4 separate regions of the Homo sapiens genome follow, and all the other regions are reported to be linked to region 1. The links are microRNA targets in miRTarBase. Many come from high-throughput screens and were not tested one by one. Region 1 holds a microRNA gene; each other region holds the end of a gene's coding sequence.

The links. The annotated mature microRNA hsa-miR-6731-5p reads UGGGAGAGCAGGGUAUUGUGGA and lies in region 1 at 2,208-2,229, shown strand. An mRNA with a match to its seed (bases 2 to 7 or 8) in the 3' UTR can be bound and repressed. Matches are read on the target gene's strand: a 7mer-m8 pairs with bases 2 to 8, a 7mer-A1 pairs with bases 2 to 7 and ends in A, and an 8mer does both.
Region 2: miRTarBase lists PDZD4 as a target of hsa-miR-6731-5p. Seed matches in the 3' UTR shown: 7mer-m8 at 958-964.
Region 3: the mRNA of GABARAPL1 is a reported target of hsa-miR-6731-5p. Seed matches in the 3' UTR shown: 7mer-A1 at 6,112-6,118.
Region 4: miRTarBase lists CNNM4 as a target of hsa-miR-6731-5p. Seed matches in the 3' UTR shown: 7mer-m8 at 893-899.

The regions. Positions count from the first base shown.
Region 1 is chr1:24,914,504-24,921,618 of GRCh38, reverse strand. MIR6731 (microRNA 6731) reads left to right here and starts at 2,203; the gene lies at 2,203-2,274. It overlaps RUNX3 (RUNX family transcription factor 3), which reads left to right. Exons shown (of 5, transcript NM_004350.3): 3 at 2,275-2,379. RefSeq lists an enhancer at 6,624-7,115.
Region 2 is chrX:153,796,765-153,803,879 of GRCh38, reverse strand. It overlaps PDZD4 (PDZ domain containing 4), which reads left to right. Exons shown (of 8, transcript NM_001303512.2): 8 at 1-1,714. The coding sequence ends at 527. SSR4 (signal sequence receptor subunit 4) reads right to left here. Exons shown (of 6, transcript NM_006280.3): 3 at 6,348-6,422; 4 at 6,066-6,155; 5 at 5,744-5,809; 6 at 5,381-5,551. The coding sequence ends at 5,447. Among named protein-coding and RNA genes, the nearest start is that of SSR4, 5.7 kb to the right of the region's middle. RefSeq lists a cis regulatory region at 2,897-3,171.
Region 3 is chr12:10,221,376-10,228,490 of GRCh38, reverse strand. It overlaps GABARAPL1 (GABA type A receptor associated protein like 1), which reads right to left. Exons shown (of 4, transcript NM_031412.4): 4 at 5,363-6,704. The coding sequence ends at 6,639. Among named protein-coding and RNA genes, the nearest start is that of GABARAPL1-AS1, 9.9 kb to the right of the region's middle.
Region 4 is chr2:96,809,076-96,816,190 of GRCh38, forward strand. It overlaps CNNM4 (cyclin and CBS domain divalent metal cation transport mediator 4), which reads left to right. Exons shown (of 7, transcript NM_020184.4): 7 at 245-2,799. The coding sequence ends at 442. It overlaps CNNM3-DT (CNNM3 divergent transcript), which reads right to left and starts at 4,582. Exons shown (of 2, transcript NR_149141.1): 1 at 4,419-4,582; 2 at 3,164-3,414. RefSeq lists an enhancer at 6,340-6,459 and a silencer at 6,800-7,115.

The sequences.
Region 1 (7,115 bases):
GCAGGGAGCCCGAGGCATCTGCCTGGCACTTCCCTAGACCATCTGCACTTCTGCTTCCAGAAATCATACAAAGTGGCCCCTGTGACCTGAGAGTGGGAGACCAGGTCTGTTCTGACCTGGGGCTCCGGGGGCAAGTGCAGTCAGAATTTCTATCCCTGCCTCAGCCGACTGGCTTAGGAAAAGGCTTCCAGAGAAGCCCCTCATTTCCCAGCTGGAGTGACACTCAGTGGGTCTTGAGCTTTAAATTCCCCCTGGTGTCTCAGAGGGCCTTGGGTCCTGTGGCATGGCTCCTGGCAGCCTGGCTGGTTTAATTTTGTTCCGGATTCTCCTGCCTCTGGGGCTAGAATTTTCACTTGATCAGTTGACTAACAAGTACCCGGCCATGCAAAGAGAACTGTGAGATACTGGTCTCCACCCTGAGCTTCATCTCCCACCTGCAACGTGGGGCTGTTGAAACCTACCTGCTCACTTTGGAGGCGTGTCAGGGGGACACCAGAGGGATGCGCTTGGGCAGCCTCTCTCCTTGACCATCCTGTGCCAGCCCTGGGGTACAGGTGAGAGTGCGAGACCATTGGCCCCTACCCACAGGGAGTTCCCAGGCCTGTACGTGGGATCCAGAGGCAGGGATAGGGGGATAAAGTCTGGCTTGGGGGATCCGCAAATCTCCCCCGCTCCCGGCCACCAATCTCATAAAGCATGAGGCTGTGGATCGTAATAGAGAATAGGGTGAGAGGAGGACTCTTACCCAGACCCCCAAACTCCCAGACACATCAGAGAATTCACTGTAGAAAGTAGAGAGAAGACTGTCGAAAGTAAATCTTCATAAACTGCTTTCTACACGGAGAAACCCGTCTGAACATAAAACGATAGAAGAACGAGAAATAGAAGTGAAAATGAAAAACCACCCAGCGTGTGAAGGCAAAATGTGCAGGCCTGTGCCCGGGGAAACTGATGGCCACAAATACAGCATGGAAAGTATTAACAAGCTTAATATATAGCAATTTTTAAAAGGCACTAAAACCTTCACAGGAAAGTAAAAGAACATGAAGCAGTAATTTGTGTTGGATTATGATGGATAATAATCATATAAAAAGTTTCATTCTCACTAGTAATAGAAAAAAAGGCAAACAAAATCAAGAGCGTGTAAAAGATCTTCCATCTTGATAGACACATCCCTGGGGTGTGACGCAGCCTCACACGCGAGGGTGACGACTAAATCTCTCCGGAGAGTCATCTCACTCCAAGAGGGATCCGCGCCCGTAATATGTCCCAACCCTCTGCTGCCGTGAAATCACTCACCGCTTCTTGGAATCTCTTCTAAGGAAATAAGCAGAGATGCAGACAAAGATTTTTATAAACAGAAGGTCACTTTCATTTTATTTTAAATGGTAAAAAAAAAAAAAAGTAGTATTTTAAAAGTTTTTTCCCCTCTCAGGAATTTTGAATGGAGACTTTGGAGCCAAATGTCTATCTAAAAATAGAACATTCTGGAAATAACAGTTGTGTCTACAGAAGAAATGTCTGCAGCTCCCAAATCAGTCCTTTTTCAGCTCCAGCTGCACACATCAATAAGAAATTAGCAACGATGTAAATACCCGAGAGTAAGGAGGTAGATAAATAAAAGATGAGGAGGCTTCCTTGAGTTGAAATATTTTGCAGCCATTAAAAACGAAGTTTATGGAGTTTTAATGACGTGGGAAAGTGCTTCTGATGTGAGGTTAAATGAAAAAAAAAACAGTATGAAAATCTGTATTTTAGTACCACTGCGACTGTGTAAATATACAAACCCATACAAAAAGAGCTGAAAGGGAAAACACCAAATGGTAACGGTGTCTATCTCCAGCTAGTGGAACCGTGGGGGGGGGGTGTCTTTTCTTCTTTATTTATATTTTGTATGTTCTTGAATTTTTCTACAAAGATCACCAATTACTTTCAGAAAATAGAATATACCCATCCTGCTCCCCACCACAAAATCGTGTGGGTCTCTGAATAGAAGAGACAGCAGAAAGGCCAAGAAGAGGGGAACATGAGCCAGGGTGGTCACGGCATGGGGCGGGGGGTTGACAAAGTTGGCGTCAGACCCCCAGGGGCCTTGAATGCCAAGCCCAAGAGCTTGAACTTCACCCAGAGCCCTATCTTCTGCCCATGTTCAAAGAGGACAGAGTGCCCCTTCTTGACAGTTAGGGGCTTCCAGGGGTAGATACAGGTGGGAGAGCAGGGTATTGTGGAAGCTCCAGGTGCCAACCACCTGCCTCTATTCCCCACTCTCCCCAGGGAAGAGTTTCACCCTGACCATCACTGTGTTCACCAACCCCACCCAAGTGGCGACCTACCACCGAGCCATCAAGGTGACCGTGGACGGACCCCGGGAGCCCAGACGTAAGTGCCACCGAGCCCCCTGAGCCCCTGCGCGGGGGAGGAGGGTCCAGTGCGGGAAGGACAGCAGCTAGGTCAGACAGATGGAGCCCTCCTCGGGGGGTTGCAGTCCTTGGCTCTGTGCCCCCACACACTGCGTGCCTGCTGGCAAACCCCTAAACCCTCTGGGCTTAGCCTGAGACCGTGGGAGGCCAGCGAGGAGGCTGGGAGTGGAGATGACTGTCCATGGAGACTACTGAGGGAGTCAAGGAAAGGAAAAGGATGGAGAAAGCTTTCAGATATGGCATTTGTCGGGTGCTTGTGTGTTTCTGGGTGGAGGTTGAGCCAGGCTTGCTTTACTCTGCCCCCAGCTTCTCTGCGGGTGGCTGAGGGATGCATGGAGGGCAGGAGTGATCAAAAGTCAGGGGCTGGTCTGGCTGTGAGGCCAGGCCTCTTCCTTGGAAACTGAGTCTTTGAATCTTAGCATGTGACTTGCTCAGGTCACCCAGAGTCCGGGCACCCAGACCCTATGAGCAGGGAGTTCTGGTCCATCAAAGCGAGTTTGTGTTTAATTCTCTCTGCTTGCTGAAGGTCAGATTAAGGCTGGGGAAGTGGGAGGGTAGGCTGAGGCTCTGTGTCCACAGAATGAATGAATGACTGACTGACTGACTGACTGAATGAATGAATGAATGAATGAAATAGAGCCAGCCAGCTTCCTGAGCTCCATCCCACCTCCCCAAGGCATTTTCAGCTTGGTGCACTGAAGGTTGGCCCACCCCTCTCTTTCTCAGAAATGTGACCCTTTGTAGTTTAGAAGACCTTTTAGCAGTCACTATTGAATGGGATCTTGATGACAGCAGAGCCAGAGGGGTCACCCAAGTTCCAGTGAGGAGAGAATCCAGGCCTGAGGGAGTTGGGTACCTGAATAGGACCTAATGCTGTGCAAGGAGCAGGAAGGCGCCCCAGGCTTCAGTCTTCCCAGAGGCAAGATTCTAGGCTGAGCAGGCCTGGGGCAGGAGGCCTGGGGCAGGAGGCCTAGCCCTGGGCTGGCCCCTCCCTTCTTGGGAGTCAGCTGGGCCTGACACCCCATCATCCAATTCCTGGGCCCATCCCAGCATCTGGCCACTTGGGAAAGGCTTGGAGCTGAGTCCAGCAGCCCTGGAAGAGTTTCCCTCCAGGGCTCTCAGGGTCACCTCTGCCAGCCCTGAGCCCCGGCACGCATCCTCAGGCCTGCACCGTCAGCTCCCAGCCAGCACTTGCCCTGGCCACACTCCTGCTGGTTCCCTCCTGCTGAGATCAGACATAGACCAGCCCATGCCCTTGGCCTTGGGCTTCATGACCCTAGGCAAGTCATGTCTTCTTTGTGGCCTCAGTTTTGTCATCTGAGAACTGGATCAGTGACTCCAGGAGTCTCAAGGTGGTGATGGCTGGGAAGCCCTCATGAGCCATAGACCACCATGGTGTAGAGAGCAGTTTCCAAGCCAGCCTTCCTGGCTGTGGGTCCTTGGGCTAGTCATCTCCGTGCCTCAGTTTCCTGAACTGAAAAATGATATTCGCACAAGCAGCTACCTCATGATGCTATTGCGAGGAAACAGTGGCTTAATCTATAGAAAGCACTTAGCGGTGGGGGTTAGCAAGGGATCCGTCACTTTAGCCAGGGCTGTTATCTGCAGTGTGACCTAGGGCAAGTCACTGACCTCTCTGGGCCTCAGCTCCCTCCTCCATGAAGTGTGATGATGCCACCCACCCTGCGGACCTGGAGATCAGGGGCGACATGTGGACAGCACGTGGCCGTAGCACAGAGGGGTCCCATGAGTCACTGGGTCCGCAGCGTTTTGTCGTCCTCAGTACCCAGCCCCCTTCCTGCACTCCCACCACCACCATTAGTCAACGGTGAGCTCTCTCATGGGCAGCAGCTGGGTGGCTGCCTTGGTAATAGAGGTGCAGGTATCAAGTCTCCATTGAAGGAGGTGGCAGCCCTGCCCTATGTCTCCAGGGGCAGGGTCAGCATGGACAGGAGCCTCAGTTGGGCTCTGGGTGGGGATGCGGCACTCAGAAGCCACTCCAGAAAGAGGGGAGCCACTCCAGAAAGAGGGAGGCACGGGACGGGGTCTTGACGCTTGGTGGGAAGATCCAAGGGACCGGGCAAGGTTGGCCCCTCTGAGAGCCCTCCATGCTCAGCCCAGCCCACCCCAGAGCCGCCCACTCTGCCCTGCTGGGACCCCTGGATGAGCATGGAGACTCAGCCCTGCCTGTGGGAGATTCCAGCAGAATCCCCTGCCTGCTCTTCCCTGCCTGGGTCTCCCAGACCTGAGATGGCCCCTTCTGGGGTGAGCTGGAAGGTAAATGCGTGGCTCAGGACGAGGCAACAAGAGGGAGGGACAGAGGCTGGGCCTGGAGACCCACGGCGTCAGAAGCCAGGCTTGCTGCACCACCTGAGACAGGTGACCTCCCTCTCTGGGCCCCGGCAGCGGCTGGATCAGTGGTTTTATTTACAGAACAGAGCAGAGATGGAGTCGGGGGGCAGTCTACTAGGTCCCCCATCCTTAGGACCTGCCTGTTCCTGTCCCTGGCATATCCTGGCCCTGAGATCAGGTCCCCCCCCATACCCTGGGTTGCAGCCCCACTCCTTTGTCTTTGGCCCTGGACAAATCCTTGGCCTTTCGGGTCCTCAGCGTCCCCATCTGTAAGAGTGAAGGGACCAGCTCAGCGGCTCCTGGTCACTGAGCAACCCCCTCCCTTGCGTCAGGCCCTGTGCAAAGTCCCCAGTAACTGATCTCTTGGGCAACCCCAGGAGAGGATAGAGGCCAGGGCGCAAAACCTTTTGCCCAAGGTGACTGTCAGCACACCCTGGGGGCTCCGACCCGGGGGCTGCGGGAAGTGAGGGCCACTTGGAAGGGCCTTTTCACCTCAGTGTGCTCAGCTGTCAAATGGATGGTATTGGTGTCTGCCTAGGGGAGTCGCTGTGAAGGTTGACTGAGTTTACCGGGGCCTGGCCCCAGGAAGTGCCCCCACAACCTTCACAGGTTGTTACAGGCCTTTTGTGCTCCTGGACTTCCTTTCCCGGCTTTTTTCCTGTTTTGCCACCTCCGACCCTCTGAAATCTGAGCCCGCTGTGGGGTGAAGTGGGAGTAGGGGCTGGTCCTGGGAGCCAAGGACTGGGAATCTGTAGATCCCTGAGGCCGGCTGTGGGTTCTGTGGCCGGGTCGTTCCCCTCTGGTGCCCTGCAGAGCGTGCCCGGCCTGCAGCCAGGTGGCCAGCTGGGTTTGAAGGCTGGCTTGGTGGCTTCCTGCCTGTGTGGCCTCGGTTTCTGAGGTTCTCAGTGCTGGTGTCCCTCAGAGTCACTGGGGGCTGGTTAAGAAGCAGGTTGCTGAGCCAGGTCCAGGATCCCAGCAGGAGGGGCGGTGACACCTGGCAAGTCTGGCATGGACCACGGTGGGGGAAAGGCCCTCACGCCCCCCTAGCCTGTGCCCGTTACCCCCTGCCCTCCCTCCCACATCCTGCTCTGGCCACCCTGGTATCCTGGCTGGTCTTTGAACTTGCCAGGGACACTCCTGCCTCGGGGGCCTTTGCACTGCTCTTTTTTCTATCTGGAACACTCCTCCCCGGACACCCCCAGATGCATGGCACACTCCTTCACACCCTAAAGCCTCTGCACTTCTCAGCAGCCCGCCTGTTTCAAGTGGCACACACACAGCCTTCCTCACCTCTCCCCCTTTTCCTTCCTGGCTTTAAGGTTACCCCGAGCACTTACCACTACCACCTTCTAAGGTGCTATCTAGTCCGATAGTTTGTTTCATTTGTTATTCATTTCTCCCATTTTGTTTTGTTTTGTTTTTTGAGATGGAGTCTTGCTCTGTTGCCCAGGCTGGAGTGCAGTGGCAAGATCTCGGCTCACAGCAACCTCCGCCTCCCAGGTTCAGGAGATTCTCTTGCCTCAGCCTCCCTAGGAGCTGGGATTACAGGCACACGCCACCACACCCAGCTAATTTTTGTATTTTTAATAGAGACAGGGTTTCACCATGTTGGCCAGGCTAGTCTTGAACTCCCGACCTCAAGTGATCCGCCCACCTCAGCCTCCCAAAGTGCTGGGACTACAGGCGTGAGCCACCGCACCCGGCCCCCTGTTGTTTATGCTCTACAAGGGCAGAGTTCTTTGCTCTGGTTTGCCAGGCCCTGGTATAGCTAGACCCTGAGAATGTGGGCAGGAGCCCTTCACAGCTGCTCCATAAATCGTTGATGAATAAGCAAATGATTCATTAATGTCATTTCGGGTAGTAGGAAGTCCTATGAAGAAAAACAAAGCTGGGAGAAGGAGTGGAGCGTGCAAGGGATGGAACAAGGGATGGGGCGGGGAGGCCTCCTGAAGAGGTGACCTTTGAGCAGGGGCCTGAAGTGAGCAGCCAGCAGAGTGTGGCTGCCGAGGGTTTGGCGTGGGCAGGAGAAGTGACCCTGAGCCCGCAGTTGGGCCTTTGAAGGCCTTAGAGTTTCTGTAGTTTCTTCCTGGGCTGAGGAGAGGCAGCTGCTCCAGGTCCCTGGCTCCCAAGATCCCCACAACCCCCAGGAGTGTCTCCTGCGCTAGGGGCAGGGCTAGCGGAGTCTGCCCAGCAGGAGGGAAGGGGTTAACCACAGACCTCCTGGGTTCTCCTAATCAACCCCAGGCCTCTGGAAGCCCCACTTGCAGCCCTGGGAGGGAACCGCTCGCCTCCCTGCCCGCTGGCCCCCGGCCAGCCCGTTTCCCTGCCCAGCCACCGACCCGG
Region 2 (7,115 bases), not on the chromosome of region 1:
AGCTGGGCCACGGCCCCCTGAGCTTGGCCGGTGGCCCTCGGGTGGGCGGGGTGGCGGCCGCGGCCACTGAAGCACCGCGCATGGAGTGGAAAGTGAAGGTGCGCAGCGACGGAACCCGCTACGTGGCCAAGCGGCCCGTGCGAGATCGGCTGCTGAAAGCCCGTGCCCTGAAGATCCGGGAGGAGCGCAGCGGTATGACGACCGACGACGACGCGGTGAGCGAGATGAAGATGGGCCGCTACTGGAGCAAGGAGGAGCGGAAGCAGCACCTGATCCGGGCCCGTGAGCAGCGGAAGCGGCGCGAGTTCATGATGCAGAGCCGGCTGGAGTGCCTGCGGGAGCAGCAGAATGGCGACAGCAAGCCCGAGCTCAACATCATTGCCCTGAGCCACCGCAAAACCATGAAGAAGCGGAACAAGAAGATCCTGGACAACTGGATCACCATCCAGGAGATGCTGGCCCACGGCGCGCGCTCCGCCGATGGCAAGCGGGTCTACAACCCTCTTCTCTCAGTCACCACCGTGTGAGCTGCCCGGGCGGGTACACGGCCCAGGCCCAGGGAACCCCCTGGGGCCCCGGCCCTCACTCTCCTATAGAGATTGTGTGTGTGTGTGTGTGCGCGCGCGCGTGCTCGCTGTGCGCACGCACACATCTCCTCGTCTGGGTGTGCGCACAGGGCTTTGTTAGCAGAGAGAAGCCCCTGAGGAGAAGGGACGCTTTTCTTCCTTCTGCCCAAGTAAAGTGACCATGCCAGTGGCCAGCACTGGGGGCACACCTGTGATGGGCACCCCTTCAGCTGTGCGTGTGCATTCCCCATCCCCCATGCTCTTGCGTGTGCTTGCACGTGCACGCACACACACACCCAGTGCTCTCTCCACCCGACCCGTGTACTTGCAGACAGGGAAGCTGAGCTGAAAGGAGCACAAGAGAGTGTCCGGCTTCGCTGCTGAGCGCGGCCTCTCCCCGCCGCTGCGCACTGCAGTTATTTGTAGACAAAGGCACCCCTGATTTTTGTGGTTTTTCTCCCTTTCTGTGCTTGCCAATAGTTGTTTTGTTTTGTGGACCTGCCCTGGGGGCTGGCAGCTCCTTCAGGCAGCCTGGCAGAAGTGGAACTCCCCTCTCCACTGATGGCTGGGAAGGGAGTTGGGGAGGAAGAGTGGGAGGGAGGGCTGGGGATGGATGGGAGGGAAGGGGAGGGAAAGGTGGGAGGAATGGGAAGCAGCTGTTCTGGTGGCTTCCACTCTGAGGTGTGGGAACGGGGAGCCTCTGGGGGGCACCTGTTTCCCCAGTGACTCAGAGAGAGCAAGACTGCAGGAACGGAGGGGTCCTGCAGGGTGTCCACCAAGAAGTCACAGAGCCCGTTCTGCGCCCCACACCATCTGGAGCAGGGGCTTCTCTTCTGAGTGAACTGAGGAAGGTGCTTAGATGGTGAGGGCTCTAGAAACCAAGCCCCATGAGCAGCAGTGGAAGACCTCGGGCCATGCGGCCTGGGGAGGACTTGGTGGCGATCCGCAACCTGGACCCCAGTGAGAGGCGGTGGGCTGACTGGGAAGGAGAGGCCCCCAACCTCCTCAGGATTTGCACGTGTGAACTAGGCTGCCTGTGGGGTGCCCCTTAGGCTTGGAGAGCCCCAGATTGGAGGCAGACAGACTGCACCACCCCTTCCCCCCCTGCATCTCAAGAATAAAGCAAGCTGCCTTTGTACTTGGTTGAATCGTGGCCTCCCTGTGTTCATTCTTATTGGGCTGGGGAAAGAGTTGTCAGTTTGGGGTGGGAGAAGGAAGAGGGGGGCAGGGTTAGGGTCAACTGAAAGCCACGCTGCAGCCCTCGGTTTGTCTTGGATGTCAGGAGCAGTGACTGTGACCTCCCATGGACAATTGTGTGGCACTCCAGGAGATATACCAGAGTCGCCTGAGTCATTTCAGAGGTGTCACAGTCACAGGGTGGTGACCAGATGCAGAAGGCTGGCAGAAGCCTGACTTCAGACTAGCCTCCAGGCAAGGGCCACGGTCATCTCCATGGGCCAAACCGTAGGTGGGGCCCGCTGCTGGCACATGCCACAGAGAAGTGGGTTCCAGCCCCATCCCTCCCAGCAGGGCCTGATGCCGTCCACTCTGGAAGGCGGAAGCTGCCCTCCCCATTTGGTGATCCCACAGTGCCTAGCAAGGTGCTCAGTTTGCAGAAGGCACCTAGTGGATGTCTTGGCCAGATAGATGAATAACCGCGTCGTTGCCAGGGCCCTTCCATCCTGGGAGCTCTCAGCAAACCTTCGGGCTCTATCAAGTCCTAGGAGCCATGCTCAATGCTGGGCAGGGTCAGGGCCTCAAAGACAACTCCGCAGAAAACATGGGCACAGCCTCTCATGGGAGTGGCACTCCCTGGAGTGGGCAGTGCTGCCATGAAGGAGCGGAAGTGGTCAAGGAGGCATTCAAATTCTCCAGAAAGAAGACAATATAGGCCAGGTGCGGTGGCTCACGCCTGTAATCCCAGCACTTTGGGAGGCCGAGGTGGGTGCATCACATGAGGTCAGGAGTTCGAGAGCAGCCTGGCCAACATGGAGAAACCCCGTCTCTACTAAAAATACAAAAATTAGCCGGGCGTGGTGGCAGGTGCCTGTGATCCCAGCTACTCAGGAGGCTGAGGCAGGAGAATCACTTGAACCCGGGAGGTGGAGGTTGCAGTGAGTCAAGATCATGCCACTGCCCTCCAGCCTCGGCGACAGAGTGAGACCCCCGTCTCAAAAAAAATTTTTTTTCGTTTAAACTTCTCTTAAGTGCCGAGATCGGGGCAGCAAGTCAGTGACGGATTAGACGCTAAGAAGGCTGTGGGGGGAAAAAGTCCCAGTGCCTGTTCCCAGAAGCCTGGAGTCCCGCTGCAGGGAAGGCTGGATCACAAGGGTGCCAGCTGCCTCTCTGCCGCACAGCAGCTCTGGGAGGGAAAGCCTGGCATATCACACCCCACCAGCAGGGAAGAGGGGAAGAGGCTTGCTGGCTGGATGGCAGGAAGGGGAGCAGAGGGCAGAGGCTGGAGATAATGGCTTCCCCCACCCCTCAGGGCCTCACCCCCATGAGGGCTTGGCACATCCAACCCTTGACCAGCTCCCTAACCCTGTCCCTTGGGGGAACAAGGCTCCAAGGGCCCAGCCACAGGGAATTGGCCGGAGTTGACTGGAGATGGAGGTCAAACTGTCCCCTTGGCCTCCCTCTAGCTGCTGGGGGGCTCACTTGGATGGTCCTAAAGGCACCCCCCTTCTTCCAATGGTGGGGTGCCCTCCAGTGTTCACGGGATGTGGGCTCATATGGGCCTGGAGCCTGGAGTCCCTTGGCTGGCTCAGGGAGAGGTGGCGCCAGGAAGGCTGGCAGCACTTGGCTACTGATGCCCTGGAATAGCAACTTCACGTCTGGGTCCCACGGCCATCAGGCTTCGTGGTGGAGCCAGAACTAAAAAGAGCAACCGGGCGCCCGACAGTCGCCCCGGTGCCTGCTGCACCCGGCCTGCCCCAGCCACCCGCCCTGCACAGGCTGCTGAGTCTCCTCTGGAATCTAGAAACTGCATCTGCTGGCAAAGCTGGTGTGGCCCCTCAGCCCCAACGCTCCTGCTGCACTGTCCTGGGGTGAGCGCCCAGCTCTTCCTAGAAGCCCACCTATTCTTGGCAGCCGGCCCCTCCCAACCCCCCTCCCAAGGCCTGGGGGTGGGAAGAGGGCTCCCTGCTTATATAGATGACCCCCTCCCCGAGACTCTGACAGACCCAGGTCACAGGCAGTCCTCACCTGCTCCTGACACCCCCGGCCCCTCAGTGCTGCTCTCTCTAGCCACCGAGCTGAAGTACTGAGGAGCCCCTACCTCCCAGGCAAGTTTTGGGCCTTCCCTCCTTTTCAGCCTTGGCTGAGCGCGGTGGCTCATGCCTATAATCCCAGAACTTTGGGAGGCCGAGATGGATGGATCACCTGAGGTCAGGAGTTCGAGACCAGCCTGGCCAACATAGTGAAACCCCGTCTCTACCAACAATACGAAACATTAGCCGGGTGTGGTGGCAGGTGCCTGTAATCCCAGCTACTCGGGAGGCTGAGGCAGGAGAATTGTTTGAACCTGGGAGGTGGAGGTTGCAGTGAGCTGAGATTGCGCCATTGCACTCCAGCCTGGGCAACAAGAGCGAAACTCTGTCTCAAAAACAAACAAACAAGAAAAAGGCAGCCTCTCTGGAGAATTCCATTTCTCTCCAGTAACAGCCAATGGGTGACCCAGATGTCAGGACTTTGGTGGCTGGTCCCAGTGGACTCCCTGACACCTTGGAGTAGGCACTGTCACTGCCTCGCAGCTGAGCAAACCGACTTGGGTCCCATGGCTGGGAAGGGCTCACCTGGGATTTCCACCCAGTCCCTTTGGACTCCAAGACCCTCACTGCCTCATGGGCCCTCAGTGCCACTAAGGAATACCATTAGCTGGTCAGGAGCCAGCATGTGCCAAGCTGAAAATCAGGCTGATGGGAGAGGTGCAGGATGAACTCCAGGCGTGGTGCCAGGCCGGGATGCCTGCCTGGTGTCCTGAGGGCGCGGGTGCTCTTGGGAGAGGTGTCTCTAGGAGGAAGTGATGTACCCCTCACAGGTGGGGTTTTGTTTTTTTCTTGAGACAAGGTCTCACACTCTGTCACCCGGGCTGGAGCACACTGCTGTGATCACGACTCACTGTATCCTTGACCTCTCCAGGTCAAGTAGCTGAACTACAGGCGCATGCCACCACACCCAGCTAATTTTTCTATTTTTTCTGTAGAGACAGGGTCTCACCATGTTGCCCAGGTTGGTCTCAGACTCCTGACTTCAGGTGATCCTCCCACCTCGGCCTCCCAAAGTGTGGGGATTACAGGTGTGTGCCACCACACCTGGCCATGGGTGTGTATTTTCTCAATATCCCATGAAGGCACAGCACACGGGAAGCCAGGTGGCATGGTCAGGGTGTGGAGTATGGAGGGGCCAAGCCCAGACAGCTGCACGCCGCATGGGCAGGGTGGGGGCACTTGCTGTGCCCGAAAGCAGTGCAGGGAAACCCCTCTGCGTGCGGAATGGGCCCGGGGCTTCCAACACAGGAGCTGTGATGAAGACCAGGCTGGCTGTTTCCCCATGGAGCCTGTGGGGCCACCTGGGGAGGAGGTGGCCAAGCCCACTGCCCTCACCAGAACCAGGAGAGAGTCACTGGGAAGGTGGATACAGGGTTTTGTGGGGACCAGACGGGGGGCTTCATTGGGAGGAGGGACGGGAGTTCTAGACCAAAGCCCACCCCTTTCCTGCCTGGTGCCTCTGCTGGCCAGGCAGACAAGAGGACGCTGGGCCCCCAGCTCTCCCAGTCGGGGGAAGGCACAATAACGCAAGCCAGCAGCCCCAGGTCCTGTGCAGTCCCAGGTCCTGTGATGTTTATTGAAGGAAGCAAGGGCAGGGCTGGGGTGCCGCCCTCAGGCCTGGATGTGGCTCTTCGCACTGAAGGCCAAGTAGTAGATCACAAGGCCGATCGCCGCAGCCAGCACCTCAGTGGACACCCAGGGCCCGTTCCAAGTGCCCTGAAAAAAAGGAGATCACAAGCCAGCTCAGGGGAGTACAGGTGAGCAGACCAGCCAGCCCTGGTCACCTTCCGCCAGGGGAACCAAGACATGCTGGCCAATCACGGCCCAGCAGCAGAGCTGGGGCTGTGGAGAGGATAACCTTCACTCAGCCCAACAACCCCAAAAAGGAGGAGGGACCAGGCCACTCACCCGATGGTCCACGCTGACTGTAAACAGAGGCGGGATGATGGAAATGTCCTCGTTATTCCTCTGAGCCTGCAAGGGAGGTGCAAGGGAGGTGCTGGGGTCAGGGGTGCCTGGCGTGTGGGGGTGGGGAGGGGAGGGGAAAGACAGGTAGGAACACCGGCCCAAGCCCCAGAAAAGGAAAGGAGAGAAATGGGCAAGAGACACTGAGGAAGGGACAGGATCACAGAAAGGCCACCCAGCTCAGGACTTGCTGCCAGCACCTCCCAACCCAGCCCATCCTGCTCCCCAGGGACAGGGGAGCACAGTGGGCTACAGGAGTCCTCACCTTCCTGAGGAGGCTGTAGGACTCCTCGTCGAAGAATCTAACCTCATAGGTGCCTGCGTGGGCGCTCTTGTGGTCCAGGCTCCAGGACACCTGGGTTGGGTGTTGAGCAGAGTGTGGGCAGAGTGGACACGGAGGGGCCACCCTGACCACCAGTGCCGACACTGCAGCACTCCGGCAGCCAGAGCCCACGGCCCCTGGCCCTGGTTGACCGGCCACCCCTGGGGCTTCAGGTCACACCCGGGAGCAGGGAGCCCCCTAGCAAGGGAACCATTGGCCCCTCACCTGATAACGCCCCACATCCTGGCCTCGAGTGACAGGGAATTGTTTTCCACCGACGTCAGCATAGAGAGCCATGTTCTGGGTGAGGGAACAAAGGCAGGGTCACCTTCTGCCCCCTCTGGGTGTGGGCAGAGGAGCCCTGTGCGCTGCTCACACGGCCTGCAGGTGGGCAGGCTAGGCCCAGTTGGGGGCTGCAGTGTCCCTGGCAGGAGGTACCAAGTAACACTCACCAATCCCGTGACTGGCCCTCTGCATTGGTCTTCCCTACGGGGGCACAAGGCCAGATCCCCATGGCCGGGCCTAACTGGACGCATAGGAACCCTGTTGACTGTGAGCAGGGGCGGGATGATCAAAAGGGCTGAGTGATTTCCTGAGTCTACAAGGGAGGTGCTGGGGTCAGGGGTGCCCAGTGGGCTGCCCAAGGGGTGCTTTACCCTAAGAGGGCCATACCCAAAAAAGGCCCCATTTCCTTCTTTGGACTTATGGGAACTTAGCTGGGCATGGTGGCGAGCACCTGTCATCCCAGCTACTTAGGAGACTGAGAGGAGAATCGCTTGAACCCGGGAGGTGGAGGCTGCAGTGAGCCAAGATCGTGCCAATGCACTCCAGCTGAGGCAACAGAGTGAGACCCTATCTCAAAAAAACAAACAAAAAACAAAAACAAAAACAAAACACCCACACAGACAAACTGGCCAATGGCAACCGGGGTGGGCTGACTCCTGGCCCTTTCTCCCGGTCCAGATACTCATTCAGGAAACAGCGGGTGGTGAG
Region 3 (7,115 bases), not on the chromosome of region 1:
TATTTCAATATTTTTGAATGCCAACCATATGCCATTCACTGTTCTGACCAATTGTTGTATATCACTACACAAAAAGTTTCTGCCTTCCTGCACCTCAGGATCTAGAGAGAGAAGACATAATAAACTAGAAAATTATGTTACATGATCACTACGAAGCAAAAAAGACAAAGACCAAGGTTGAGAATGACTAGGAGAAAGGGAAGTAGGGGGAAGGTGTTGAATATTAGAGATGTTCAGAGTTGGTCTCCTTGACATAGTATCTAAGACTTGAAGGAGGTTAGGAACTAGCCAATTTTAGCACGTAAAATATGGCTTATTGTTACTTTTATCCTTTGAATACCATGTGCATATTGCTTAAAGAAGCAATAAAGCCATCATCATTCTTTTACTGAATGGTATGAAGCAACTTTGAGCCTACTAAAAGTGTAAAAATAGAAAACATGTTTCAACTTCTCACCCAAAAGTTCAGGATCACTTTATTCAAGTTTTAGGAGCTAAGTACTTCTAAACAGAAGTCCTAAGGGTCTTAAATACACTGCTTTTGAAAACAGAACTACTGAAATAGATGGCCCCACCGTGATGAAAACACACCAGGAGAATGACTTGTCTTTTGTTAGTCACTGTTGAAAACATGCACACCTGCACAATGGCATAGTGAAATGTCATTTGACTACTTTTAAGGGTGATAACTTCCTGTTATTTCAAACTCTGAAAATAATCTAGCCATGGGTACATATACTTAAGAAGTGCCCACAACCAGGAGGAAAAAAAAAAAAAAGGAAAAGAAAATGAGGCAGGGCCCTACACAGGGTAACCAAGCTGAGATCATCAGTCACAGCTTTTGGAACAGGGATTCTAGTATTTGTGTGTGTGGACTTTTTGTTGTTGTTGTTCAGCTACTTATCAAAGGTAAACAAAGGGGTGGGTCGCTGGGCAGTGGGCATAGGTGAGGAGGGAATTCTCCATTACTCAGACAGCCTGGACTCAGAACCACCAAAGGCAAAATGGACTTGTTTCTGAAATATTTGGTAGTTTCATGCAGCTAAAAATAACTAAAGTTAAATAAATGTTTGTAGCTTGTTTAAATCTGGCAAAGCAAAAACATCCAAAAGAAACCACAGCTAGAAATAGTTAATTACAAATTTTGTATAAGAACTAATATGAATTTATCAACTAGTTCATTTTCCAAAATGACTGAATTTGTCATTATTACAGCTGACTTGATGCTGTACCCACGGGCAGGTGGATATGCATGGCCCCCCTCCACACACCACTTCAAAATTACAACACACCTGTTCTATCTGATGGTACCAGTACCAATAGAATGCAGAATTGTAAGCTTAATAAGTGTAACACTCTCAAGACAACTGTAACTGACAAGACTTGTGTCCAAAGGGCCACTGCAGTGACCAGGGGACTGCACTGCACCACTCTGGGGGGGCTCTATTCATATTTTATAGTGATGAGGCAGTGCATGAGGCAGTGATCTTGTCTGCCTGGTTACTACTGTACATTAATCATAATTTGCTTTGTTCTTTTGCGATCTTAACTTCTGATTGCACAATACAGTAAAAAAATTTAACAATGCTTTGAAAGCACAATGCTTTGAAAGAGGAAAACAAGTCAGGGTTGGGGGAAAAATCAAGAAAAGCAGAATAGACTGCCATTCACAAGTAGAATGATTTGTCTAGTCTCCCTCCACCTGACAGGGTAAGACCCATACTGGGGAGCACTAAACCTGGATGGCACAGGCATTGTGTCTCTCTTGATGGAAGAGGCTTCAATGTTTATACTACATAGAGAGTGACCACATATTTCGTCCAATGGGGGGGGGGGGGTCATGTGACAGTGAAATAAGGAACCACTAATAAATCAATCAGGACAACCGGCATAATTCAAGACTATCTTTGGCAAACTTAAGATGTATGCTTACCCTACATATATTTGAAATCTTTCTACCGAAGTGTATGGAAGAGCTAAGGACTCACTCATCTTTGATGTTCATGTCATACTGGCCTCCCTAATCTCATTTGACACATCATTCAACCTTTATCCCCAGAGAGAAGCAAGTCAATCAGAGTAAGCCAATCTAACTAACAATCTAACTAATCTTAACATGGAACACTGGGCCAGGTTAACGAAGGGCTTCTTAAACTACTTTTAGCTCATGACAAGCCTCACAATGGCCTGACGGCACAAAGAAGCATTAAAAGCTTGACTAGCAGAAAACATGGAAGCGGCGCTGAGAAGAACTGACCTTCAGTAAAGAAGTGCCAAATCCAATCCAGCCTGCTGAGAAGTGACAGCATGCTGGCAGTCCTCAGAGCCCTCGCTTGCTCTCGGCACCTCCCCTGCCTGGGCTCCCACTTTGGTGGCATTTGAGGAGCCCTTCAGCCCCCCCACTGCACTGTGGGAGCCCCTTTCTGGGCTGGCCAAGGCTGGAGCCCACTCCCTCAGCTTGGAGGGAGGTGTGGAGGGAGAGGCACGAGCGGAACCGGGGCTGCGTGGGGCGCTTGCGCGCCAGCTGGAGTTCCGGGTGGGCGTGGACTTGGCGGGCCCCGCACTCGGAGCAGCCAGCCAGCCAGCCCTGCTGGCCCGGGGCAATGGGGGACTTAGCACCCGGGCCAGTGGCTGCGGAGGGTGTACTGGGTCCCCCAGCAGTGCTGGCCCACCGGCGCTGCGCTCGATTTCTCGCCGGGCCTTAGCTGCCTTCCCGCGGGGCAGGGCTCGGGACCTGCAGCCCGCCATGCCTGAGCCTCCCACCCACTCCATGGGCACCTGTGCGGCCCGAGCCTCCCCGACGAGCACCACCCCCTGCTCCACGGCGCCCAGTCCCATCGACCGGGAAGGAACAAACAACCCAAGGGCTGAGGAATGCGAGCGCACGGCGCGGGACTGGCAGGCAGCTCCACCTGCAGCCCCGGTGTGGGATCCACTGGGTGAAGCCAGCTGGGCTCCCGAGTCTAGTGGGAATGTGGAGAGTATATCTAGCTCAGGGATTGTAAATATACCAATCAGCACCCTGTGTTTAGCTCAAGGTTTGTGAGTGCACCAATCGACACTCTGTATCCAGCTGCTCCGGTGAGGACGTGGAGAGTCTTTATGTCTAGCTCAGGGATTGTAAATACACCAATCAGCACCCTGTGTTTAGCTCAAGGTTTGTGAATGCACCAATCGACACTCTGTATCTAGCTGCTCTGGTGGGGCCTTGGAGAACCTTTATGTCTAGCTCAGGGATTGTAAATACACCAATCGGCACTCTGTATCTAGCTCAAGGTTTGTAAACACACCAATCAGCACCCTGTGTTTAGCTCAAGGTTTGTGAATGCACCAATGGACACTCTGTATCTAGCTCCTCTGGTGGGGCCTTGGAGAACCTGTGTGTGGAAACTCTGTATCTAACTAATCTGATGGGTACGTGGAGAACCTTTGTATCTAGCTCAGGGATTGTAAATGCACCAATCAGCGCCCTGACAAAACAGGCCACTCGGCTCTACCAATCAGCAGGATGTGGTTGGGGCCAGATAAGAGAATAAAAGCAGGCAGCCCCAGCCAGCATTGGCAACCTGCTTGGGTCCCCTTCCAAAAGGTGGAAGCTTTGTTCTTTTGCTCTGCAATAAATCTTGCTACTGCTCACTCTTTGGGTCCACGCTGCTTTTATGAGCTGTAACACTCACTGGGAAGGTCTGCAGCTTCACTCCTGAAGCCAGCGAGACCACGAGCCCACCGGGAGAAACGAACAACTCCAGACGCGCTACCTTAAAAGCTGTTAACACTCACCGCGAAGGTCTACAGCTTCACTCCTGAGCCAGCGAGACCACGAACCCACCAGAAGGAAGAAACTCCGAACACATCTGAACATCAGAAGGGACAGACTCCAGACACGCCACCTTAAGAGCTGTAACACTCACCGCGAGGGTCCGCGGCTTCATTCTTGAAGTCAGTGAGACCAAAAACCCACCAATTCCGGACACACTTCCACAACAGCTGGTGTGACTTTGCCTCTGAACTTGGCTGTTATTTAAAAACTCCACTGTTTCGTAAAATCAGACAGCTTGTCGAAAATGATATGTAATGTCCTATCCAAGGACAAAATTTGTTCCTTAGGAAAATCCAGGAAGTAGGCCTACAATAAGCAAAGCCTACCTGGGAGAGACACAGCCCCTAAATTCAAACGATCTCTTTGGTTTAGCAATGGCCTACAGTCTCTTGCCCTACAGGGACTGTTTCAGATGTGTACAGAGGGTTAGGATCTGCCGCCATGTGTTTTTTGCTTTCTTTCAAATATTCATCCAGTCTCATTCCTAGGTCATGGATAAATCTGTTAGTTTCAAAATACAGTTCACATCTTAAACTCAAATATTAGCTTCCTTTTGGCTTTATCAGGGAACAGCACCTTGATATTTTTGTCATTAGGGACAAGTGTCCATTTTCAATGCCTTCATCAAAATTCCGTAATCTTACATAATTTTCTGCATGTGGTGCTGCTTGGCATGGATCTTTTATAACTTCCTACTTCCTTTTTGGTGACCTTGATATATTCCCTAACTCTCTACAGAGGTAGACATCACTTGGGGATATGACTGCAAGAGATTAGAGAGGGTTAGAGATGGGTCTTAAGGTTTTTCATGAAAGAAGTTTTCACTAATCTGTTTTCCATTCTCTCATTTAACTTGCATGCTCAAAGCCCACCCACATATTCGTTCCTGAATAACTGAACAAGACTTTCATATGGTCAGAAGACACCAAGCTTGTTCTGATGCCGGGAGCCTTGCCTAGGTGCTATTTGCTGCTTTGGGAGATGGTGGCTTCAGACTGACCAAGTTGTGATGGAGAGAGTAAGGTGTGGTTGGGACCTACAGCAAAACCTGGTGCAAAAAGCAATGACGCTCAAACTTCAGTGTGCAGCAGTCATATCAGGAGCTTGTTAAAAATTAGACACCTAACGCTGAGATTCTGAGTCAGCTAAATCTGGGAGATGGCCTAGACATCTGCATTTGTAATTAGCACAGCCCACCCCTTACCTCTACGTAGGCAGTCTTCCACCTTCAGCTTTCAGAAACACATAGAACAGTGACGATGCACTTATCTTTGGAGGAGAAAAAGCTCTCTCTCTCTCTCACACACACACACACACACACACACACACCACCAACGCAGCAGGCACACTGCCCCAGCATAACATTCACCCTTGAACAGCAACTCCTGCTCACTAAAGAACTGAGTAAACATATATGGGTCTGACCATATGTGAACATTCATCACTAACAGCTTTCCCCACTTAGTTCTTTTGTTCAGAGAGTCCACATATCATCTATTCTAATACATACAAAATAAAGGCAACATTGCTGAACTCAGTGGATTTTTAAGGTAAGCAATTATTTTATTTCCTTGGCCTGATGGCATTGACTTCATTATACAAGAACTTGCAGCTGACAGAACTGACACACACATTTCCCCCAAGAGAAAGAACCCTTTTCATTAGCAGAGATGAATTGAAATGTCATGTCTGAGTGCAATTCCTGCTCCCCACTCCCACCCCACAAAATCCCAAAAGTGAAAATAAATCAATAAAATCCCCATGATTTACTAAAAGTCATCCCTCCAAACCTTTCTAACTAGCAGCTGCAGTGGATGATAACCAAGGAGGGAAGCAGCTGGCCATCATGTAGCATTCCTGTGCATGTGAGCCTGAAGGGACAGCAGCATGGGAGCAAGAATCCTGAATGAGAGTAGTATATAATTACCTTACTTCATACTTGCCCCCTCCCTACATAAGACACCTCTGTCCTGATACATGGAAAATACTAGAGGAGATGCTAAGAGTGGTTTTAGTCTACAATTGGAAATGCCTGAGACTTATTAAATTCCAAGGAAGGGGTGAGATAAGGGGCACCAAAGAGAAAGAGCAGGTTAGACAGGGATGCTCAACACTCTTGTCAATTCCAGTTTAATGCTATTTAATAACAAAACCATCTTCTTAATCACAACCACCTTCATGCCTAACCCCTATTTTCCAAAGGTAAGAGATCCCTGTCTAAATTTCTGGGTTGTTGTCTACTGCCACCCCTGGGGTGGTACTGTGATGTCTGAGTGAGATTGCAACCGGGATGGGAGAAAAGAAGTGTGAGACAGGGAAGATCAGGGGCCACAATGCATCAATTACAGTGGGTCTCTTTTGGTCCCCAGGTATGGTCCACTACCACAAGTCCCCTTTCCCTACCTGTCTTGTGCAAATGTCAAAAATAGAATCTCTGCCCAAAGAGAAGGGAGCACAGGGAGTTGCTGCTGGACTGCCATCATCTCTGGCCCCAACTTGTCCACCTCCTGACCCATCTATGAAACTGCACAACAATTAAACCCCAGGAATACTGTAAACTTACATCATCCCCATTCCTCTATCAAAGCCAATCCAACAGCTCTGTCCTGACATGCTTTCTCCCTGGGCCGAGGAAGCAGCAAAAAATATCAATTGAGCATGTGAAAATGTGATGACGGTGTGTGTGGTGTAATGTTTCTAGATGTCTTCACCTTCTGTCTCCTTGCGGTGGGAGCCACCCTCTTTCCCCATGTCGCGCACACACACCCCTCCCCTACCCCCAAGTCCAGGTGCTCCCATCTGCTGGGCTTCCAACCACTCATTTCCCATAGACACTCTCATCACTGTAGGCCACATACAGAAAATAGTCTTCCTCATGATTGTCCTAGGGGAAGAGATAAGACAACAGTTTAGAAAACATATTCATTCATTAGCTCTAAGATGCTGAGCCTCACACAACCTTGTAAAGCAGGTATGGAAGGTATCATTAGTCCCCATTTAAAAGAGGAGCAAAGGATAGGGAGAAGTGGTTGGAATTACACTTTGAGCTCTGAGTTCACAAACAAAAATCCTTCATTGAAAACATATTACACATAGGTATCAGGGATATGAAGATGACTAGGGCACAGTCCTCACTCTTAAAGAGCTCACTCCTAGCAAGGGGAACATAGATACCACAGATGGATATATAATGGGACATATACTAACAGGGAATATATGCTATGCAAAAAAAGATTCAGGATTATTAGAAGTTTACGTAATTCATTAACGGAGCACAATGAGAAGGAAGCATCTT
Region 4 (7,115 bases), not on the chromosome of region 1:
AAGCGATTTGCCCGCCTCAGCCTCCTGAAGTGCTGGGATTACAGGTGTGAGCCACTGTGCCCAGCCCTGAGATGCTTTCTTCTCTTGTTCGTGCACCTTGTTCTTTGTAAGGGCTTCCAGAGACGCTGACTGGTCATGTTCTCTCTCAACTCACAGCCTCAATCCTGGCCCTGTTTCTCCAGGCCTGGTGATAGGGTCTGCCTCCCAGCCCCTCCCTCCATGAACTCATCCCTTCCTCATGCAGATCACTCGGCAGCAGTACCAGAACGGGCTGCTGGCTTCTCGCATGGAGAACAGCCCTCAGTTTCCCATAGACGGGTGCACCACCCACATGGAGAACTTGGCCGAGAAGTCTGAGCTGCCTGTGGTGGACGAGACCACAACTCTTCTCAACGAGCGTAACTCCTTGCTGCACAAAGCCTCCCACGAGAATGCCATCTGACAGGAGGGCCCGGGGCCCCCTGCCCACCCTGCGGGGGCCTCCCCAGTGGGCCCACATGAAGAGAGGGAACCTGTTAGTCCAGAAAGGATACGGATAGATAGCCTGTCTGACTGAACAGCCAGATGGCCCCCAGCCTATGGGGGATCTGGCCTCTGCCAGGGACCTCTGAGTAGCTCTGAGGTGGCACTGTCCAGCCCTGGATAGGGGGGGCAGTGGGCCAGCTACCGTAAGCAAAGGCTGTTTTTTACTGAGAGAATTTCTAAAGTAGGCTCATCACTTTTTTTTAAATATCATTTTGGGAAGGGAAGACAGGGTTAAGGAACTTTATTTAAAAAAAAAATATTTTTTTCCTAAAAACTATAAAAGAGGAAGGGTTTCTTGTCCCGGGAAGCAACGGACATAATCTGTTCCCAGCCATGGCCTTCCAGCTTGTGTCCCTGATTCAGGGAGCTCTCCCTTCCTCCTCCTCCTCCTCCTCCGGAGGTGGGATCCCAGAGCCTGCCAGTGGAGGCTTATCTGTTGGGAGGAAGACAGCTCTTCACAGAAGCAAAGAACAAAATGGCATGGAGATCAGCTGCCTGAGCACCTGCGCTGTAGCTTATCTGACAACGCTGAGGCCACGAGCTCCTGGGTAGCTGTGATCAGGGACATGATAATCTGAGCTATGCAGAGGAGCACATCTGTTGTCAACTGCTGTACCCAGAAATCTAGAACTCTGCCGACAGCCTCTCCTGGTGAGTCGGGACTCAGCTGAGGACACATCCCCACCCTGCCTCCCATCTGGCCCTTTGGACAACTGGCCCTTTGTGACAGGGCTGACTCAAGTGTTAGGCAGGGTCTCAGGCCTTTGATTGCTCACCCCTGCTCCCCAGGCCCTGCCCTCACTTTTACCAAAGGTTCTCCCTCGGCGGGAGGGCATCTGTGTTGGAGGTGATTTGTCTGGGTTCTTCCTTTTGGTTCCAGAAGGAACTGTCAGTCATCAGCATCTGCGTTGTTAGCAGTCAGTACCACCCCCGCCCCACAATGACAGTCAAGGCTGACTTGTTGACTGAAGCCTTTTTCCCAGACCCCTTATTTCGAATCCCCAAGCTTCAGTCCCTCTTGGGGGTGGAGACAAGAGGACATGTGGGAAGCCACGGAAGCAGGTTCTTTATGTCCTCTCCTCTGTGGCTGGCAAGGCTCACCTGGCCTTATCCACCCACTTATGGAACCTCAGGAGAGGAGGGCTCCTCCTAAAGGCATGCAGCTTGCAGCCCCTCTTTCTCACACGTGTGATCCTAGCGTGAGAGGTCATCCTGCCCTTGCTGAAGTTAGTAGTACTGTACTAAGAGCTCTGCCCTCATGTGAATTCCTGCCCTGGCGCCTCTTCCCTGGGGCTGAATCAGGCCCTGCTGCAAAACTCCAGGCTTCCCAGGGTTGGGGAGGCTGTGGGACCAAGGTCCATGTTGGTCCTTCCACTGGGTGCAGCAGGAGCTGGGTCCCGAGAGCCTGGCAGGTGAAACTCTGCAGGCCTTCCGCCTGATTATTATTTATTCACTCCTTTCCTCACCCCAAGTGCCCTGCTCTCCAGGTGCCTAGAGTATCCTAACTCTTAGGACCAGGGATTGTCTTGCACCAAGTATGCCTACCCCTGGCCAGTCTGAGGTCTCCTAGCCATAGAACTGACTCCTGGAAGCCTGGAGAGAAGGTGGTGACACCCATGGGTTCTCAACTGTAAGGAAAAAAGACACCAGACTTTTGTTCCCTAGTGGGGGAAAGCCCTTAGTCTTGTACAGGAGCAGCTTGCTCCCAAGTCCTTTTGGAAGCTGGCAGAGCTATATTCCTGACAGCCCTGACTGCCAGGTAGAGCAAAAGACATTGGTGGGGGTATGTGAAGCAAAAGGGGCAGGTGCACACACCTCCACAGTGACCTCTGTGCACACGGTTACCACCAACTGGCTGGCCCTCCTCCTCTTCCCTGGCCCATTGATCATCCCTTCTCACAGAGGGTCATCATTATTTCCAAATATTGTTTGTCTGATGACTTCCTCTTCCCAGTGCAATTTTTCCCTTCCTATTTCAACCTCTGGTTCCTGGGATGAGCCATACCCTGGAACTGGCCCACCCACTGTGTCTTCCACGTAAGGGAGACCTTTGCAAAGGGCATCCAAATGGGTAGGCAGGTGACAGCCGCCGTATTTATTTTGCATAATATTTTAATTTGTATATTTTTGTGATTTATTTTGGCGTTATGAGTTTGACTCTCGGGGAGTTTTGTTGTTATGACTCTTGTGTCTTTTGTCACAAAACAATGATATTTGCTAAACGATATATGGAATTTATTTTTGATTGGTAATAAAAAATCAAATATGTATAAATCCTGGTGAATCTACAACTTGCCTGTTTGTTCTGTCAGTATTCAGTATGTTGTTGAGATAAAAGTGGCTGTGGCTGGCTGTCTCTTGTGATGGGACAAGGGCAATAAAGGATTCTAGGACCATTCAGCAGTGAAATGCAATCAGAAATGGAATTTCTAAATATAGTCAAGGCTGTCGTCACAGGAGTGAGAGGGACGTGGCTGCTGGCAGACATACAGGACAGATGTGCTCAGCTGCCATAAGCATGAGTCCTGTGAAACAGATCCCATAGGGCCCTTGGCTTGTGAGTACTGGAAGGGCAGTGGGCTTCAGCAAATTGCCCCTCCTCCCTACCCATGGGACTGAAAGAAGCTTGATCCAAAAGTATGAGTAATATTGTTTTATAACATGCAGCTGCCTTTTCGTCCACACCTACAGGCTAGTGGTTTCAAAGTTGGAGTGTTCATCCCTTGAAGAACCTGAGTTACGTCACTATACCCACTCTCAAAGTTGCAGCTCTGCAGGGGACTCCCATGGTGCTGTACAGGTGCTGCAGGCTGGCTTGTGCGATTGAGTGTGCTGAGGCCAGGGGCTCCAAGCATGCAAAGTTCAATGGAGTAGACAAACTGGGGGCATCTATGTAGGCAACAAAGAAAAGAGGATATTCCAGATAAAAGAGGTACACATGCCAACGTCTGTGTCTGGGGCAAGATTTGTAAATTATCTTCATCCATCTGTTCCACACGTTTAAATCCCTTTCGCACGCCAGGTACTACCAACCCCTCTGTGAATTTAATGAAGAACCTTCCCACCACCCCAAGGGGGACAGTCACACACAGCTTTTCCATTTGCTGTCTCCCTGACCTGGGACACATCTCCTAAGTCTTGGCGAGGCTCACCCCTTATTTCATTTAAGCCTCAGTTCAAATGCCATCTCCTTGAGAAGGCTTCCGATTAGCCCATCTCAATCAGCATCACCCCAGCATCTGTCTCTTTATCTTGCCTTTTTCCCTCCATAGCACTTACTACCAAATATTGAAATATAGACTTGGGTATTTTCTATCGTCCTTGCGCTAGAATCTAGCCTCACAAGGGTAGGGACTTAATTTTATTCCCACTACAGTCCCAACACTAGAACAGTACCTGCTACACTGCAGGGACTCAATGCAGGAAATACTTGTTGAATGAATAAATGAATACATGTTACAACAGGGGATGTACTGGATGATATGGGGAGAGCACATAGCTCCAATAACCTTGAGCCAACCTAGTCGAGGGTCAAGGAAGATCACTCGGAGGGAGCAGCATATGAGCTAAGGCTTGAGAGAGAAGCAGGAATTAGCCGGTGGGTTTAAAACTCAAGAATAAATATTTAGATATAACATGGAAATGTCTTGATCCAAAAGACCAGTAAGGAAAACGGCCCAGGGAGGGCCAACAGTGGTCTGAAGGTCAAGTGGCTGTGTCTCCACTGATGCTAACCAGGGGTGGGGTAAAGAATGGCACAGCCACAGGAGAAGCTGGTCAAGGACTGTTGAGGCCTCTACTGCAAAAGGGAAACCACTCCAGGAGCAGCTTTGCGTGCCCCATATTGGATTTTTTTGTATCTTTGGGTACTGACAATTTAAATGACCACTTACGTTTTCCAAGTTTGATCCAATTGTTCTTCCACCTGAAGCTTTACTCCCAGAAAGTTAGTTATAGGTTGTTTTCCAAGGAAGCCTGAGACAAGGAAAAAGTAACCTGTTGAAGGTGAGAGCTCTGTCTCTAAATCCATGGGGAGTTTTTCCTGGCTTTTCTCTGGAACTGTTGTTTGTTAATGACTTTTCAGGCACATGACTCATTTCAAGCATGTCATCCATTCTATTTCAATGTCAGTATTTTATCTTGACGTGGAGACAGAAGTGAGAACTAAAGGAGCTGAATCTATTGTAATGTTTGCACTTTTTTTTTCTTCAGAGGCATGATGTTGCAGTGCAAAGGCCCAGTAATGTCTTTATTGCTTCTGCTGGCGGCTTACTCTGTAATCTGCAAAAGTAAGGTAAACTCAAAGGGCACAGAACATCACCTGAATAATAAAAAACACGGAGATGCCCCATTGGCCTAGTCACAGCTCTGAGTTTACAATGCAGAAGAGACACTATTACCATCTTTTAAAAATACACTATTACCTTTTTTTTTTTGAGATGGAGTCTCGCTCTGTCACCCAGGCTGGAGTGCAGTGGTGCGATCTTGGCTCACTGCAACCTCCGACTGCCTCCCGGGTTCAAGCGATTCTCCTGCCGCAGCCTCCTCAGTAGTTGGGACTACAGGCACCCGCCACCAAGCCCGGCTAATTTTTTGTATTTTTCGTAGAGACGGGGTTTCACCGTGTTAGCCAGGATGGTCTCCATCTTCTGACCTCGTGATGTGCCCGCCTTAGCCTCCCAAAGTGCTGGGATTACAGGCATGAGCCACCGCGCCGGGCCACTATTACCATTTTTTTTTTTTTGAGACATAGTCTTGCTCTGTCGCCCAGGCTGGAGTGCAGTGGCGTGGTCTCAGCTCACTGCAAGCTCCGCCTCCCGGGTTCACACCATTCTCCTGCCTCAGCCTCCCGAGTAGCTGGGACTACAGGTGCACGCCACCACACCTGGCTAATTTTTTGTATTTTTAGTACAGATGGGGTTTCACCATGTTAGTCCGGATGGTCTCGATCTCCTGACCTCGTGATCCGCCCGCCTCCGCCTCCCAAAGTGCTGGGATTACAGGCGTGAGCCACCGTGCCCGGCCAGCTATTACCATCTTTTAAAAAGTTTTTTACAGGCCGGGCGCGGTGGCTCACGCTTGTAATCCCAGCACTTTGGGAGGCCAAGGTGGGTGGATCACGAGGTCAGGAGATCGAGACCACGGTGAAACCCCGTCTCTACTAAAAATACAAAAAAATTAGCCGGGCGTGGTGGCGGGCGCCTGTAGTCCCAGCTACTCGGAGAGGCTGAGGCAGGAGAATGGCGTGAACCCGGGAGGCGGAGCTTGCAGTGAGCCGAGACTGCGTCACTGCACTCCAGCCTGGGTGACAGAGCGAGACTCCGTCTCAAAAAAAAAAAAAAAAGTTTTTTACAAAGCCTTTTCCTTTGGTCACTCACCACCAGCTTACTCATTTTTTTTTTTTTTTGCACATTACCTTCCACACAAGTTTTACTTTGTGGCCACAATGTGCATACTTTTTTTGATTGTTACTTTCATGACATAGCAAATTGTTTCTATAGAGTCTTTATAAAGGTCATTTAAAATGACATGTGCAGTAAGTCAAAGTCTTCTTGTGCTAGGAAATTTGAAAAAACAAAAGTGTAGAGAAAAATACAAAAATTACTGAATCTGAACATCTATAGAGAAGTGTTGTTAGCAGTTGGTTTATTTCCTTCCAATCACATACAGATCATATCTGATGGGTAAAGAATATTCCATACTGTCAACAGACCACACTGTCTTCTAAAATCGCTTCAGCAGTGAGGATCCTCTGGAATAGATCTTGTTAATCCTGAGGAATTATTCTCCCAGCGGTGAGCTATGAGAAGTGGAATCACCAGATGTAGTAATTCCTGACAGAACTGCCGCCTGCTTGTGTGGCTGAGATGCTGACCTAGGTATCAGGCTGGTCGCGCCGGAACCCAGCACCCACGCTGAGTCTTTCTGAGCTCCACTCTGCTCCTGTTAGATATTAACCACCTGAGGTAGCTGTCCAGATTCAAGGCGGTAGTGATTTTGTGTGTCTGTGTATTTATCACGGGGTCCGCGGCGGGAACGCAGGGGCTGTGTCCCACGTCCCCAAACCTCTAGTAGGGTACGGCGCGATGAACATCTTCCATAAACCTTAAACCTCCCGGCGCTCAGTCACTGGTTCTTATTTCAGCCCTCTTAGCCCCGTAGGTCGGCGCGCTGAAAACCTTTCTGGTACCTGGGGCCTTTCCTAAGAAAAAGGCACATGTCTCGCACATTTCAGTCTGGTCTGCAACTTCAGGCGCGCCAGCACCCGAGGTTCTTCCGACCGGCCGCTCCGCTCCCAAGCCGGGAACTTCCCAGAGAATTGGCTCGGCCTCCGGGCGCGGGGGACAGCATCGGGAGGAGTGGGACTCCGGGCGCCGCGCACGGGCCGAGGACAGCCGGGCTTGGGAGGCCCTGCCCGCCGCCCCGCGTCCTCCCGGCCACTGCCACCCCGCGCATCCGGAGCCGCAGCAGACTCGGCGGGGCCCGGAGCCCCACGCCCCCGGCCCGCCCCTGGCCGCCACTTGTTTACTCCCCGGCGCAGCCTAGTCCGACCCTGGGGCCCGCCCCCGCCCACCGCCTATTGGCCGAGG